2 separate regions of the Homo sapiens genome follow, and region 1 is linked to region 2. The links come from fine-mapping of genetic effects on gene expression. A gene starts in region 2. The other region holds a variant in brackets. All regions are shown on one strand. Distances are from middle to middle.

Region 1 (2,912 bases), 150 kb after region 2:
CGAGTGATTCCTCCTTTGACTTCCTCTTTTTCCTTTCTCTTGATCTCCTCCTGCTAGGTGCTCTTTGCTGCCTGACCCTCTTTCTCCTTCATCCTGGCTGTGGGCGTTCCCCAAAGCTCGGTTCTTGTTCCTGAATTCTCCTTCTGCCATCTGTATCCCTCATCCCACTCACTCACTCTCCTCGCTTCAATACTCACCTCCATCTCCCCTTTTTCCTTTTAATGTAATGTAAATAATTGTGTTCCTTTCATTAGCTTTTTACTTGCTCTGAAACCTCTGTTCAACTGTGAGTTCCTTGAAAGCAAGGACTATGTTTGCCCCTTCAATACCCAGTTAGTTGTTCTAGGACCCAAGTATGTTCTTTGAGGGCTCGTTGAAGACCTGCTTAGTGGATGAAGATTCAATATGCTTACCTCTTACTCCTGCCCAGGACAGACCTAGAAACCTGAGATCCAAGATGGACACTTCGAAGGCGTTGTCTCAAACTGCTAGTCAATGAGGCTTTGGGAGGCTTCACCCCCGGGTGATTTAATGAGTCACAGTGGATCAATTAGCTGATTCTTTGGCTCTACTTGAAAAAGCCTTTTGTGGCCACTCTGGGATCTCATTCGACTTGAGTGTGTGGGCGTGAGAAGAGGATGCAACTGAAATTTTTTTCAAGCAAGCAAGCAATTTCATTTCAGGAGGCCTGCCTTCCCCCAACATGCTGGGCCAGTGAGGGACCTGCATGTCCCCAAGACAGCAGAACTGGTTTCCTGCCTCCCCCATCAGACTGCGAGGTCTTGAGGGCAGGACTGGAGTTGAAGTCATATTCCCAGCCTGGTGCCTGGTACATAGTAATTACTCTGCAAGTAGTTATTATACAAAGAAAAGAAACCCAATCTTATGTGAGAGAAAATCTCTCTAGATCCTTCCCCAAGTCCAAAGAGAACAGAGGAACATACTCGCCCTCCTCTGACTTCCTCTTTTATCATGCTCTGTCCTTCACTGTCATCAACATAGCCTGGCCTAAAACTTTTCTTTTCTAGAAGCAGCTTTTCTAGAGCAATCTCATCTGACTCTGATTTCTTTTCTTCATGTCTCCTAACACTTCTGCACATCTCTTGCAGTGCAGCAGCTTGCATAATTGTGTTGTAAGCATCCTGAACTGGTCTGTCCCCAGGTGTGTGCCTTGTGTATGAGGGGCTTGGGGACTTGGGGGCACAGGGCATCCCCTACAGTCCTTGTCAGCCTGGGCACCCTGATATGGAGGGCTCTTGCTTTACCTTCCTTTCCATAGCCCAGCCCATGGCTCTGCATTCAACAAGTGCCCAATGATGCACTGACCGGCACATAGTCAGCATTCAATGAATAGCTATTAAACTAAAAAGAAACAATGTCAAACCCACTGCTCACAGAAAGGAAATGGGGGAAAGGGTAAAGGAATCCAATGTCAGCACCAAACCCACTCCCAGAAATGACCAGATTTTGAGATGAGTGAGAGAACCTAACAAGTCCACAAAGAAAAAACAGAACAAAACACTCTTCTGGATCCCCTGATGAGCTGCACAATTTCAGTGTTTATTTTCTGTC[C/G]CAAGAAACAATGTAACCATGCTTCCCTCTGGCGGTGCAAGGATCATGAGTTCAAATCTTGGCTTTATTATTTCTGTTTGGGTGACAATGGGTAAGTCACCTAACCTCAAACCTTCGTTTGTTTATTTACATATGGGGGATGACCATAAGTGTTGTGGTGAGGATGAAACATGGCAAAGCAGGTTGTGCCCTTGGCAGCTAGCAGGAGCTCAATAAGTAATGACCAGCGCATCCCAGTAAATGGGGATCAGAAAGGAGATGGAAGGGAGGGAGCTGAGTGCCAGCATAGGAATGTGGCTCATGGGAAAAAGAGGAGGAAGGGTTGTTGATGGGGCCTCCCCTGTGGCAGAAACCTCCTAGAGGACATTCCCCACGGGCTTGAAGAGAGGCCTGACTCTTTGATATTTAAGGAAAGAGTGGGGATGTCTGGAAATTCTGCCCAGTGGCTTATCACTGTGGGGTTTCGGCCTCTGCTGTGGAGACCACACTCCCGGAGAATGGGTAGCTCTGTTCTGTGAAAGCATGAGAGCCAAGAACTTCTCCATGGGAGAAGCTGAGAATTACAGGATTCTAGAGATGGTTTAATACTGAGGAAAATGCAGCCCAGAGATGGAAAGTCACTTTTTCAAGGTCACACAGAAAACACATGGCATAGCCAAGACAAGAAATAAAAAATGAATAATAATGTCCAACAACCAGTCAGAACAGATGACCTGGACTGAAGGGGAAGGTCAGGCCTGGGAGTGGTACAGAAGTGACACATGGGCTAAGCCAGCAGGAAGGGCACCAGAGGAATAGGGCTCAGCAAGCTGCTCTGTGACAGTGCTGTCCTGGGTGGCTGTGTACTCTGTTTCATTTACTACATATAATAACAATAGGACTAGAAGCCATTATTAATCCCCATCTTGCTGATGTCAAACCTGAGGCACAGTTTAGATAATGTCCCAAGGTTTTAAAGCTAGAAAGTAAGGAAGCTAGAATGCAATTCAGGTTGGGTTGACAATAAAGCCTGCACTCCTTCTGCACAACTCTGCTCATTTCCAAGCCAGAGGCTATTCTACCATTTAAGGCCTCCCTTCCTCCCTGCATACCCTCAGTCCAGGCTCTCTGGAAGTATATGGAACACTTCATCACCCCTAAAACACACACACACACAAATGCATGCCCACGCACATACACATGCATGCACACACACACTCTATCCTAGTCCAAAAACAACACACATGCACACACACACACGCATACTCTAAACTAGTAGGGACCTGGTAAGGCAGGAAGATGGCCGAATCCATTAGCATTACCAAGCACAGCACATATTTATGGCCCCAGTTACAGCCTTT
Region 2 (2,912 bases):
CAATAAAATGGGTAAATTTTCTGACTTATGTGGCTGTTTTTGACTTCTGTTATAGGATATAAAGGGGATCAATAAATGACATCTTTGAAAGTGGCTAAGCATATTGTATTTGAACATCAGTAGAGTACTAGAGACAATTTCATTCTTCACACAAATCTCCATACTGGAAATGAATAGGGTTTGGCAGGGAATACTTCCCAAGAATGCAGTGTCCAGGGTCCTTACTTCACATCATCTGGATCTGACCCTTTGAAAGAGGTAGAAGACTTCTGAGACCGGCTAATTAAGCTTTGTTTCCTCATATGTTTTGCCAGATAGCAGTAGCAGAATGAAAAGATGAGTAACCACAGGAAGCTGCTATTTTTCCCCTCCTTTCAAACTGTACTGTTAGAGTCATGGTCCTTTTTACAGAAGGAACCTCTCATCAGATTCTGTTGATTCTAAAGTGAATAGAATTTCTCCCGATAAAGAAATAGGGGTTTGTTTCGATTAATGACTGCAGGTCTCTGAGTAAATGCTCTATTTGATTTTTTTTTTCGGCCCGTGTGTCTACCTTATGGCCCAAGTCTACCTTATGGTGGCCATTAATTCATTTTGGGCTCCTGCAGCCTTAGTTGGGATATAGAAATGAGAAACACTCAGAAATACCCTTTTGGACCACAACCAAGAGAAATAACCAATAGTCTTTTCTCCCAGTGGTAAGGAAGTCAGAATACATTGATCTAGACTGCAACAACATATATATATATATCAGATTCCGCCCCCCCGCAATACATGAATGTATAGTAAATTAGTGTGAACTCACTGAACACTCCTCAGTTTTGGTGAGAGACTATATCTGGCCTCTTTCAAGCAAAGGAAAGCCATGTAAAACAGCGCTGCTGTCAGCCTTAACTTCCAGACGATCGAGTTAATTTACTAACTTCTCAGTGACCTGTTTTTTTTTTTTTTTTAATCTCAGTTATATTTTCTTCCTTGGGCTAAATCAGATATTTGCATAGCCCCCAAAGTAGTAATTGGATAGTCTTGGGGGAAATATGCATTTCAGTGGTGAAAACCCCTGTAAATTCAATATATTTGGCTTTTGTGGAAAATTTTCCTCATGGGGTGAAGTCTAAGCCTTAGTTTCTGTATTATCATGAGAGATGACACCAGCTGCTTAGCACAAGGTGGCGCCAATGAGCTTTAGAATAAGTTGGGCTTGACCACTTGGGCCATTGTTTTCCTGCTTCCTCCCTTCAAGCCTCACCTCCCCAGCTCCCAGCTTCTACTGAACAAGGCTGAAAACCCACTCTATTGCAGGGAAAGGGAAAGATTAATGAAAAATGTCAGTTTCTTAAGTCAGCACTGGTGAAACTTTCCTAAAACAGGAATGGCGTTTGCTGAGTTTTCTCTGGGGTCTCTGCTTTCTGCAGCTAGCTTCCCTGCTTGACTGCCTAGAAGGCCTCTGCTTTCGGGTTTCCATCTCTTTCCCCTCCAGAGGACCCTACAGCCTAGGCGGGAGGTGGTTAAGGCTTCTGGCTGCTGTGCAATGGGGCCATCTGTGTTTGATCAATCCTGGCGGAAAGGAGGGGGTGGGGGTTGTAAAGAGAACTGAAAGCATTCCAGAGTAGTGAGAGAGACCCAGAGATCAGGAGAGAAGGCACCGCCCCCACCCCGCCTCCAAAGCTAACCCTCGGGCTTGAGGGGAAGAGGCTGACTGTACGTTCCTTCTACTCTGGCACCACTCTCCAGGCTGCCATGGGGCCCAGCACCCCTCTCCTCATCTTGTTCCTTTTGTCATGGTCGGGACCCCTCCAAGGACAGCAGCACCACCTTGTGGAGTACATGGAACGCCGACTAGCTGCTTTAGAGGTGAGGGACCCCTTTCTCTTCTAGCCCCGCCTAGAAGGATTCCAGGGCTATTGGTTCAACCAGTTTGTTAGGGATCTGGGGATAACAAGAAAGGGCTCTGTTAGAGTCTACAGAAAATTCTCTCTTAATAAGAGGACCTTCGGAATGACAAGCCCTCCTCTTACCCCACATAGAACAATTCCAAAGCAAATCGACTTTTGCGTTTTACCTCTGGGATTAGATAGAATAAGGGGGCAGAGTGGAAACGAGAGCCAAAATTGTGGGGCTGCATCTCCAGAGAAGGTGATGATTCTGTTGAAGTTGGAGGTTCCCGGGGAATCTATAACTTCCTGTCTTTTTAACAGGTTGAGATCCGTAGCATTTTAGTGTCCGAGAGGATAATTGCTAAGGGAGCAGAGACCTCTTCACACCTTCATGCGCTTAGACCTGCCTAGAGGCTCAGATGGCTCAGTGGCACTGCTCACAGAGAACACAGGCTGGAGGACATGGAGTCGGGGTAGGGGCCTAGGTGAATCTCAGCTAGGCTCTTTGCACATTTAGCACCTCTGCACATCTGGTTTCCTTTTCTGCAGGAGTGGAAGGGGATATTGAAGCCTGGCTGAGTTTGCTCTTTTTTTCCCATTCCTGACTCCCGAGTTGGGCCTCTCCCTGCCTGGGAGTTGTAACCCTGCAGCCTCCCTCCTGATCCCCCATCCCTTCAGGAACGGCTGGCCCAGTGCCAGGACCAGAGTAGTCGGCATGCTGCTGAGCTGCGGGACTTCAAGAACAAGATGCTGCCACTGCTGGAGGTGGCAGAGAAGGAGCGGGAGGCACTCAGAACTGAGGCCGACACCATCTCCGGGAGAGTGGATCGTCTGGAGCGGGAGGTAGACTATCTGGAGACCCAGAACCCAGCTCTGCCCTGTGTAGAGTTTGATGAGAAGGTGACTGGAGGCCCTGGGACCAAAGGCAAGGGAAGAAGGAATGAGAAGTACGATATGGTGACAGGTAAATAATCTGAAAGCAGGCCCCTAACTCTTCTCAGAACCGATATTCTTCCTTCCTTGCTTCTTACTCTT

Evidence for each region. PIP is the estimated chance that this variant, and not a neighbour inherited with it, causes the effect. A credible set is the group of variants that fine-mapping cannot tell apart.
Region 1: its variant is the best candidate, but not a certain one, in a credible set for the expression of OLFML3 in whole blood (TOPMed, PIP 0.62).

What each region holds. Positions count from the first base shown.
Region 1 is chr1:114,130,392-114,133,303 of GRCh38, forward strand. The region is part of intron 3 of SYT6 (synaptotagmin 6); the gene reads right to left. Among named protein-coding and RNA genes, the nearest start is that of SYT6, 22 kb to the right of the region's middle. The variant C/G (reference allele first, on the strand shown) is at 1,573.
Region 2 is chr1:113,977,777-113,980,688 of GRCh38, forward strand. It overlaps OLFML3 (olfactomedin like 3), which reads left to right and starts at 1,698. Exons shown (of 3, transcript NM_020190.5): 1 at 1,698-1,854; 2 at 2,556-2,841. The coding sequence starts at 1,741. HIPK1 (homeodomain interacting protein kinase 1) reads left to right here. Exons shown (of 16, transcript NM_198268.3): 16 at 1-93. RefSeq lists an enhancer at 942-1,775.